3 linked regions of the Homo sapiens genome follow. The protein of the gene in region 3 interacts with the protein of the main gene of each other region in a biochemical or structural test. Each region holds a gene or a part of one and is shown on either strand. Other genes may lie near its edges. The genes, in order: KHDRBS1, ABL1 and SORBS1.

Region 1 (3,407 bases), on a different chromosome or scaffold from region 3:
CTCTTAGGGAAGCCATGAGAACCCTGAGAATCAGCATAGAGTTGAAATGGGACCAACCAATTCCATCACTTCCTCTCTTGGTCTCTTAGGAGGGGGTTCAGAGCCAGCCTATCATGCCAAATCCTGCCCCAGCCCAGCTGAGTTATCAGCATTTCTGGGATTGAAAGAGAAACCCTCAAGGGCACCCAGAGTTGGCTGAACTGTCATGCCTAAAGGCAGATGCTGTCCCCTTCTGAGCTCACAGAAATTATTTGGTGTCACACTTTAGAGCCACCTAGGGGTTCTACAGAAGGTGCAAACCAGGCTGGCTTGCACTTTTAAATACTGAGACCTATCTATGGAAACCAATCCAAGTTTCAGCTCAGTTGAGTTGAAAACTCTCCATAAATTAGAATTTTTGATAGGATTGGATACAACAGCTTCCAACAACTTCCAGGGGGTGAAAAAGCTTTGGTTATTTTTAAACTAAAACTTAACAACTCCATCAACTTTTTTTTGGTAAACTTAAAATAAAATCCCCCCCACCACTTTTAAGAATGTTTCCAACTTTTAACAAGCCCATTAACTTTAGAGTTAATTTAAGTTTATTTGAAAGAGAAAACTATTTTATGGTCCACCCAAAAAAATGACAATTCATCACATTTACTTTGATTAAAAAAGGACTAAACTTTATTGACAAACTGCTGCAGACATTTTGACATAAGTTTAAGCTACCTATTTAGGCAGACTTACACATGTAGCATTTAATCTTCCGAGAACAAAATGGGAGGACGGTACAAATCCAATTAGGACTTTAACTTATGTACAAAGTGGATTTTGATTCCTTTTTCATTCAGCTGCAGTGTCCCTTTTTATATCATGCTAGTGTTGAGACATACTTGACTAACTTGGGAACAGTTCGATATATTGACAACCGTCAACTTAAGAAAATCAACAGCTTTTGGCCCCAGCGTCCAAGTGAACTTTTCATGGAGTGCAGAATCTCAAATGGACAAAATACTTTGTCTTTTTAAATACTGAAAATTTAATTATTAGTACTATGACTGAAAGATTCTTCATGGCTAAAAAGCTCTGCATCAAACTCAATTCAGGAGGCCTTCCCTCCCCACCACCATCAACCTCTTCAAAACCTACTCCCTCCCTCTAAGTATCTCTCAACACAGTATGTCTGGGGCTAGATTTCAAAACCCACGTAATGAAAAAGTCAGTTTTACAAGCCTAATTTTGTTGTTTTTTTTTTTATATCAATTAACGTTAAAAATTGCATCAACTATTTAATTCATGAGGATCTTTCATATTAAAATTTAACCTTAAGATTCAACCGCCATGTGCTTTTATAAAGGAAACATTTTTTAGAGACGTCTGAGCTCACTTTTACATGGTGGTGCCTACTGCCGTTAATGTTTGTGATTTTAAATCTTAAACAGCCCTGAATTTTGAAATGTAGCCTAGTTTGGGATTCTGCAACTACAACTTTACGGGATGCCTCAAATCAAAACTAAGAGAAACTTAACAAGCCTTTACTTCAGAACCTTTAAGCAAGCAATGTCATTTTTGAAACTAACAGGTTTGTGTGTTTTTTTTTTTTACTCAACTTCTTTTTTTTATTATAAAAGGTACACTTCTGTTTATATTTAAACAACAAAGAAAAAAGCATCTACACACTTAAAAAATTAATTCAATATTCCTAAATCTATTTTAACTCATTTTAAAATACTACATACAGAAGCCAGAATGCAGAGTTAAGAATGGAATAAGGTGGGGAGAAGAAGGGGACCACGAAGAAAAACACTTAGACAATTACTTGTCTGTTGTGGGTAAAGCAACAGGAATCCTGGGAGATACAAGAAATCAGTAACAACTTTGCTCATAACTGATATTTTCCCCTCATGTTTGTTTTTAATAACGTCCATATGGGTGCTCTCTGTATGCTCCCTTCACTGGCCTAGCAGGAGGGGCCTTCAGCGACGGCCTGGTCCCATTCCAGTCGTCCTGGCCTGTGGGGAAAACAAAGACAGTTTATAAACCATGTGGCGACAGCACTTAGGGATAAGCAGGGATAGGTCACATAGTAAAGATCACCAAAAACACTGAGTTTCTTCTAATGTCTTGACACTTCCCCTGGTGTTCCTTGCTCTCTACTTGGCTTGGCCCTCTTGGGCAGCCTGGGCAATTTTTCAGTTTTGAGTGGAAGGACAGAAGGGAACAAATCTAAAAAGGCTGCCATTGACTCTGGAGTAATCTCCCACAACGAGGTTCTTCATAGACAAATGTGATCTGTACGCCAGTCCCCAAACCTGGAGATACCCAACACCTTGCTTGAGATAGTGAGGAACTCATTAATCTTAGTGAGTCTGCAATGGCCTTTCCTGTTCCCAAAACAATTTGGCAGGCACCCTCAGGTAAGGTGGGAAGACTTCTGGAAGTCTTTCAGATTGGAAGCAGGCAGCCAGCCCCACTTCCATGCAACAGCAAGTCACGTTTCCTTACGGAGAAGTGTCCTCTAGCTCCCTGGGAAAACCAAGCAAGGGCCACTTTCCATGGGGCCCTCCACCAGCAGAGCTGATACTGCTCTCTCTGGTAGAGGGATGTGCAATCAAATGTTGCACTGACAGCACTGTTTAAGATAATTCCAAGGCTGCATGCGGTGGCTCACGCCCGTAATCCCAGCACTTTGGGAGGCCAAGGCAGGCAGATCACAAGGTCAGGAGTTCGAGACCAGCCTGACCAACAGGGTGAAACCCCATCTCTACTAAAAATACAAAAATTAGCCAGGCGTGGTGGCGCATGCCTGTAATCCCAGCTACTCAGGAGGCTGAGGCAGGAGAAGTGCTTGAACCTGGGAGGCAGAGGTTGCAGTGAGCTGAGATTGTGCCACTCCACTCCAGCCTGGACAACAGAGCCAGACTCCATCTCAAAAAAAAAAAAAAAAAAAAAAAAGGATAATTCCTTATCTCCTTTCTTAAGTCAACAGGTGAGAGAAGCCAGAAGCCAGACAATGTGGTTCACATCCTCAAATGGTTCTCCTTTGTGACAGGGAAAAGCCTGAGGAATATGATCACATAATTCTAGAGGTGACCTCTTATGAAAATAAATTGCGTTAAATTTATTCTTCCCACACCTTACACACGCTAGTTCATCCCTGAAGTATTTTTCCAGCTGCCTGTATTCACAAGTATCTGCCTCCATCTCTATAGGCCTCAAACTCCTATACAGATCTAAAGTCACACAGAACCCTAATTATACCCCTAGTATAACACACATGTCCATCACTTTCCAAGTGGCTTCTGGGTATCAACAAGACAGTTTCTTTTTCTTTTTTTCCTGACGTATACAGATCATCCTGGACAGTTTATTTCTCTAATTCTGTTAATCAAAGCAGAGATCAGAACGGATTAACTGTGGCA
Region 2 (3,652 bases), on a different chromosome or scaffold from region 3:
ATTATTTCCATTTTATAGATGAGGAAACTGAGTCACCAAAAGGTTAGGTAACTTGTCTAGGGTCACAGAGCCAGTGAGTGGGGGTACTGGAATTTGAACTCATGCTATCTGGCTTGGGAGAGCCCACTTTTAGCCACTGGATGCTCTACTGATGTCTCTTTTGGAATTCACTGTGATTTTCAAAATGGTATCTCCAGAAACTCCTCCAATTAATCCCTGAAATGTAAGGGTAGTCTCTTTTTCTTTTCTAGAAACCTGATCCTGGCAAAATGATTAGCTTTAACAGTAGGATTAATTTTTTTTAAATGTATATAAAAATACTTGTATGTAAGAAATCCTAAAAGGGTATTTAGTGAAAAGTAATTCCCTCTCCTATTCATTTTCCCCACCTAGAGGCAATCACCCTGGAGTTTTATGTGTGTCCTTCTAGAAATACTGTGTGCACATATAAGCATTTATTATAACATGTGAATTTTGCTCTCCAGCTTTTTGTGAATATGCATGTTTATAGCAGTATCTATTCACCAGGACCGCATTTAGCTTTGCAATATTCGGTCTACTTTGAACACTGAATTTTCTGATTATTTCTTTCCCCTGGAGACGTCAAAGAAAACATGAACACTAGCCTTTTGAATTCAGGGTTTTCTTTTCATTTTATTTTCATTTGTTCATGTGTTTGTATTTACATACATTGTGCCTGAATATTGTACATGTATGTGACAGTTGTGTACTGTAGAATCAAAAACTAATGTCTGTGAACTGAACTCTTCTTGAACTTTTTGTTGTTGTTGTTATTGTTGCTTTTGGAGATAGGGTCTTGCTCTGTCACCCAGGCTGGACTGCAGTGGCACAATCACAGCTCACTGCAGCCTTGAGCTCCTGGTCTCAAGCAACCCTCCCACCTCAGCCTCCCAAGTAGCTGGGGCTGCAGGCATATGCTACCTGACTAATTAAAATTTTTTTTTTTTTTTTGTAGAGACAGGGTCTCACTATTTTTACTAGTTTGCCCGGGCCAAGCCAGTGTTGAACTACTGGCCTCAAGTGATCCTCCCACCTTGGCCTCCCCAAAGTGCATCCCTACAGGCATGAGCCACTGCACTCAGCCTGAACTTTCGAAATTTATTTTAAGGGCCCACTTTTAAATGCTTCTTTTCAGCAGCTAACTTTCCAGCGGATGCTTCATGTGGTGCCAGCCATACAGATACGCTTTTAGAACTTGAGCTTTGGAGAAGCTTATGCTTGCTTTCTGCTCTCTCCTGAGGTCATCAGATACTTCCCTTGTTCAGTAACAAAGAAAGTGAGACTCTTTCTGTTACCTAATAAAAGGCCAGTCTGTCCATTTCATTTTGGGTGCTATTAACATTGTTGACCATTTACAATGTCACAGGCCCTGGCACTGAGCACATCATGTGCAGCCTCACTTAATTTTCACACCAGTGCCCTGAGGTTTCTAGAAAAGAGGAAGGGCCCCAGTTTAGGTGGCAGTACTTTTCAATTTGGAGGCAGGAGATCCCAGTTTTCCTCTGACCTCTCTGAGCTTCCGTGTTTTTACCTCTAAGACAGAGAGACCAATCTCTGTTCAGCCACCTTAGAGGATTGTTTTGAGGGTCTATAAGATGATTGAGGGAAAGCTCTGAAACTGGTAAGAGTTAAATGTATGTTTGTGTTATGTTGATACGAGATTCCTCTGAGATGCTCTTTAGTCCAGGCAGGTTTATGGCTCACACAGCGTTCCTAGGGTCTCATTCTTCTGCACAGGCAGGCAGCTCCCGAGCCAGCCAGTCTGGACCCAAATGCCACCTGTGCTCTTGGCTGGTCTTGCGCATTCACCGAGGCTCACTGTACCTTGGTGTTCCCATTTCTAAAATAAGGCCTGTAGTAATCCCTACCTCACTGAGTTGTTGAGAGACTTCATGTAAATTGTTTAGCAGGGAGCCTGGCACAGAACAAGAGCCTAGCAGAAAAGTAAGCTGTTGTTACTTTAAGCAAATATTTAGCAGCCTAAAATGGTGGCTTTACCAGTTTCTGTAATGGTTGAAGTGATGACAGAATTCAGCCAATCCCACCCATAGTTTTTCTTGCTAATAAAGCAGTTTGTTTCTAAGTGTGTTTTGATGCGTATAATTAATACTTCCTGTCCTTGATTTTTGGCTGAAAAATGTCTTCTCTTCCTCGCACCCTCTGTTATTCCCGTAGTGAATATTTTCATTGTGGAAGAGAAATTCCCATTGGCTCATGGTTGGCATTTTATTTCTCCTGTCCAGAGACAATATTTCCACAGCCTCAAACGTGAAAACTGAAAATCTGGTGCCACTTACCACCTTGTAAAATCAAGTCATTGTAATTGTGCCAGTATAATCATTGATCTGAAATAAAAGCAGAAAATAAATCAATGGGTAGCTTTCTTAAATACATAAGAACTAAAGATCAAATGGGATATTGGAAGACTTTAACTTTTCCTCCATAATGGTGGATCTTAATTAAACACACAGAAGAACAATTTATAAAATAAATTCATAGGTTTGTTTGTTCTTTTTTAGTGTCAATTTTTAAAACTATCTCTTTTTTAATTAAAAAAAATAGAGATGGGTCTCACTATGTCGCCCAGGCTGGTCTCAAACTCCTGGGCTCAAGCAATCCTCCCACCTCAGCCTCCCAAAGTGCTGGGATTACAGGCATGAGCCACTGCACCCAGCCTAAAACTGTCTCAAAAGTAGACAGCATAATGAACTCCCATGTACTTATGATGTGGCTTTAACAATTATCAGCTTATAGTCAGTCTTGTTTTCTTACATAATAAAGTTACAGTTTCAAAGCCATTAGGAAGAATAGCTTGCTAATTATAATTACTTAGTTTTGATAGTGTAACTTTGTCCTCAGATGGGTAGAATCGTTACTCTGGAACAGGGGTGTCCAATCTTGGCTTCCCTGGGCCACATTGGGAGAAAAATTGTCTTGGGCCACACGTAAAACATACTAACGATAGCTGATGAGCTAAACCAACAAAACAAATCCCACAAAAATCTCATTTCTTTTTTTTTTTGAGACAAGAGTCTCACTCTGTCGCCCAGACTGGAGTGCAGTTGCACGATCTCAGCTCACTGCAAGCTCCGCCTCCTGGGTTCACGCCATTCTCCTGCCTCAGCCTCCCTAGTAGAGGGTACTACAGGCGCCCGGGGGTTTCACCATGTTAGCCAGGATGGTCTCCATCTCCTGACCTCGTGATCCGCCCACCTCGGCCTCCCAAAGCCCTGGGATTACAGGCGTGAGCCACTGCACCGGGCCAAAAATCTTATAATGTTTTTAAGAAAGTTTGCAAATTTGTTAGGCCACATTCAAAGCCGTCCTGGGCCATATGCAGCCCGTGGGCCATGGGTTGAACAAGCTTGCTCTAGAAATTGGTTTTCAGGCCGGGCGCGGTGGCTGACGCCTGTAATCCCAGCACTTTGGGAGGCCGAGGCAGGTGGTCACCTGAGGTCAGGAGTTCGAGACCAGCCTGGCCAACATGCTGAAACCCTGTCTCTACTAAAAATATAAAAAATTAGCCAGGCGTAGTGGGGAGTGCCTGTAATCCCAGCTACTCAGGAGGCTAAGGCAGGAGAATTACTTGAACCTGGGAGGCAGAGGTTGCAGTGAGCCGCGATCTCACCAT
Region 3 (3,652 bases):
TCCTCTTGTTTCCCTGCTTTCTTCTCTTCCCTTGTTCTCTTTTACCTCTTTCCCTTTCTCAGCTTCTTCCTCCTGCTGAGAAGGCACAGCCCAAAAAGTTGACACCAGTGCAGGTTTTGGAATATGGAGAAGCTATTGCTAAGTTTAACTTTAATGGTGATACACAAGTAGAAATGTCCTTCAGAAAGGTAAGCTGCACTTCTCATGCCTTGCTTTGGGGCTCTCTTGGATGGCGCAGCTATGTGGGGAAGCGTGGTGTTGCTATCACACCCCAGTCTGGGGGTGCTGTCTGTACCCTTAAGAGAAGTATGCCAATCAATAATTGCATTAAGGGCTGGGCACGGTGGCTCATGCCTGTAATCCCAGCACTTTGGGAGGCCGAGGTGGGTAGATCACTTGAGGTCAGGCGTTTGAGACTAGCCTGGCCAACATGGTGAAACCCCGTCTCTACTAAAAATACAAAAATTAGCTGGGCATGGTAGTGGGTTCCTGTAATCCCAGCTATTCAGGAGGCTGAGGCAGGAGAATCATTTGAACCTGGGAGACAGAGGTTGCAGTGAGCTGAGATCGCTCCACTGCACTCCAGCCTGGGCAATAGGTCTCCAAAAAAAAAAAAAAGAATTGCATTAAGGCCTGTAATCCCAGCACTTTGGGAAACCAAGGCAGGAGGCTCGCTTAAGGCCAGGGGTTCAAGACCAGCCTGAGCAACGTAGCAAGGCCCCATCTCTACTGAAGAAAAAAAAAAAAAGAATTGCATTAAGGGCAATTGGAGAATTTTCTGAGGTAAGGTATTTTTAAAATAAACCCTAGGCTAATATCAGGGTTTAACTATATTGAGCTCACTGATTAAACATAGTATTTCTGGAGTCTTAGACATCTTTTATAAGCTGTTTTCAACCAACACTTACCAACTAATGATGTCATAATGCATTGTGTTGGGGACTGGGTTTTACAATATATTGGTGTGACCTAGTGGAAAAAACAGGTCCATTGATACCAGGAGAAGTTTGAAAAGCTTTGAACCCAAAAGGCACAAACCAACTACGCAGAATGTGGGAGTTAAATACTTTTTCCAAGCCACCATTTTCTTATAGAAAAAAAATGAAGATAGATGGCTCTCTCCTAGGTGGTTGTAAGAGGCTTCGGTGAAACAACTTATGTGAAGCCCCCAGCATGACACATGGTATCTTGTTGGTGCTTAGTAAACAGGAGATGCCAGTATTATTATTATCACCATCATGCTTATTCAGAACATAATTACATTGTGCAGAGAAGTTGTTCTTTCCAGAATCCAAACACTCTACATGGCAAAATTCTCTGGCTTGCTAAAGTTACTAAGTTACTGATTTTATTGAGGCTTGAGGGAAGTGAGCACATTGTTAGAAAAAGCACTGGAAGCAACCCAGTTGCCCAACAGCAGGGGATCAGTAATTAAATCATTATATGTGTGTGCGACAGAATACCCTGCAGTGGTCCATTAAGCTATGCAATGCCATTAAAAATCTAGAATTCTATTTCTTGATAAAGAAGGAGGTTTACTATGTGCTATTAAGTATTTTTTAAAAAGCAAGTTGGAAAAGGGAAACACAGTTCATACTCAATTTTTATAAGAAAAAATATGTGCAGGTTTAATTCACATGCATAGAAGTAAATCTGGGGAGTCCATATGCCAAATATTAAGTGTTTATCCCCAAATGACTATGTGATGGGTGATGATTGTTTTCTGCTTTACGTTTGTGTTCTGATTTTTCTATAATGATACATTATAAGTATCTATAATGCTACAAAAGAAAGAAAAAGTGAAACCCCCCAAAATCTTTGCCTTAGAAATGAAGATTGGGTATCTGTTTCACATTAAATGAGTCAAAAACACTACATTTGTTCCCTGGCTTAGGGACACAAATCTGATGTTCTCCTTTACTAAAATACTTAAAGAACCAAGCTGAACTTCCCAGCATCAAGATAGCTCCTCTGCCATTAGCATCCTCATCCCAGTGGTGTTAATTCCCTCCAGGTTCAGCAGGGAAGGTTTTTCCTGAGCTAAGGATGTGATAAACAATGCAGGACATTGAAGCATGCAGGCAGAGGCCCCAGGCATGCAGAGGCATGCTAGGACAAGGACCCTCTCTTTGCTGTGTCTTCCAGGGTGAGAGGATCACACTGCTCCGGCAGGTAGATGAGAACTGGTACGAAGGGAGGATCCCGGGGACATCCCGACAAGGCATCTTCCCCATCACCTACGTGGATGTGATCAAGCGACCACTGGTGAAAAACCCTGTGGATTACATGGACCTGCCTTTCTCCTCCTCCCCAAGTCGCAGTGCCACTGCAAGCCCACAGGTATCTAAGCTTCTCGTCACTGGTTTTCATACTCAGCATGTGAATTTTTGTAGTCAACAGTGCTGATGGCACACAGCCTCTCTGGGGAGGTTTTTGAGCACTGCAATTAAAAACTGTCTGCAGGAGGCCGGGTGTGGTGGCTCATGCCTGTAATCCCAGCACTTTGGGAGGCCGAGGCGGGTGAATCACCTGAGGTCAGGAGTTCAAGATCAGCCTGGCAACATGGTGAAACCCCATCTCTACCAAAAATTCAAAAATTAGCCAGGCGTGGTGGCGGGCGCCTGTAGTCCCAGCTACTCGGGAGGTTGAGGCAGGAGAATCGCTTAAACCTGGGAGGCAGAGGTTGCAGTGAGCCGAGATCATGCCACTGCACTCCAGCCTGGACGACAGAGCGAGACTCCATCTCAAAAAAAAAAAAACTGCAGGAAAGCAGACTGTACACTGGACTTTGTCTTTATGCATACAAATGGCCTTTTCCAGTGCTTGGTTGCAGATATATCTCAAGGGAAAAGGAATAGTCAAGTAATTGCTCTGGGAATAAGGTGACTAGGGAAAGAGAAACAGAGAAACAAGAGCCTTTATCAGTTGGCCCCTCTTGGGTGAAGCTGTTGGTGTGGGTACCACCACTGTGTCATAAATCCCATGGTCCAAATGCGGTCCTCAGTCATCTTGGCCAAAGTTGACCTGCAGAAGACAAAGGCTGAAAGAGAGACTTACACCTTCTCATCAGCCATATAGACCAGATCCAAAGTATTATTTGCATTCACTGGAACCAGGTGATTGGAACAAGTAACTTACAGCATCTCAGTCTCTGTGGGCTGAAAGGATATAGGTTTATAGGCGTAATAAGATGTTGGCTTTCCCAAACATTAATTATGAACAAACTTGTTTAGAAATATAAACTATTCCTAACTGATCCCCACTTTCCCAAAGCCAAGAAAATGTCAGAACCTTGAGTTCAGGGTGACACGGTGGGGGTGACATCCCTGTGAAAGAGCCTGGACAAACCACCATGTATGTTGTAAGGAGGTTGGCAGAGGAACAAGAGTAGGACCTGGGGGCCCAGGTTGACCCTGAGATGGTGCCTCTTGTCTGGTCCTCTAATTGTTTCCTCCTCTGCCACCTGCTCATCACTGACCCCAGTAGAGGGTTCTTGGCAGAAAGCATTAAACGGGCTGACCCAGGGCTTCCTGGACAGTGATAGCCGCATCCTGTTGTCTTATAGGACAGAGTGTGTGACTGGAGTGGGACATTCTTCTTTGTAAGGATGCAGGGAACTCAACTACATTTTTCACTTGACTAGCCAAGAGTG

Evidence for each region.
Region 1: the proteins of SORBS1 (region 3) and KHDRBS1 interact in a test that uses a peptide from one of them, tested with the Homo sapiens proteins (one study listed by BioGRID).
Region 2: of the proteins of SORBS1 (region 3) and ABL1, one has a biochemical effect on the other in vitro, tested with the Homo sapiens proteins (one study listed by BioGRID).

The regions. Positions count from the first base shown.
Region 1 is NC_000001.11:32,041,117-32,044,523, reverse strand, and holds the end of KHDRBS1 (KH domain-containing, RNA-binding, signal transduction-associated protein 1), read right to left. Parts: intron 1,998-3,407; coding exon 1,900-1,997; 3' UTR 647-1,899; downstream 1-646. UniProt on the Homo sapiens protein: Recruited and tyrosine phosphorylated by several receptor systems, for example the T-cell, leptin and insulin receptors. Once phosphorylated, functions as an adapter protein in signal transduction cascades by binding to SH2 and SH3 domain-containing proteins.
Region 2 is NC_000009.12:130,838,122-130,841,773, forward strand, and holds part of ABL1 (tyrosine-protein kinase ABL1), read left to right. Parts: intron 1-3,652. UniProt on the Homo sapiens protein: Non-receptor tyrosine-protein kinase that plays a role in many key processes linked to cell growth and survival such as cytoskeleton remodeling in response to extracellular stimuli, cell motility and adhesion, receptor endocytosis, autophagy, DNA damage response and apoptosis.
Region 3 is NC_000010.11:95,337,821-95,341,472, reverse strand, and holds part of SORBS1 (sorbin and SH3 domain-containing protein 1), read left to right. Parts: intron 1-62; coding exon 63-188; intron 189-2,145; coding exon 2,146-2,340; intron 2,341-3,652. UniProt on the Homo sapiens protein: Plays a role in tyrosine phosphorylation of CBL by linking CBL to the insulin receptor. Required for insulin-stimulated glucose transport. Involved in formation of actin stress fibers and focal adhesions.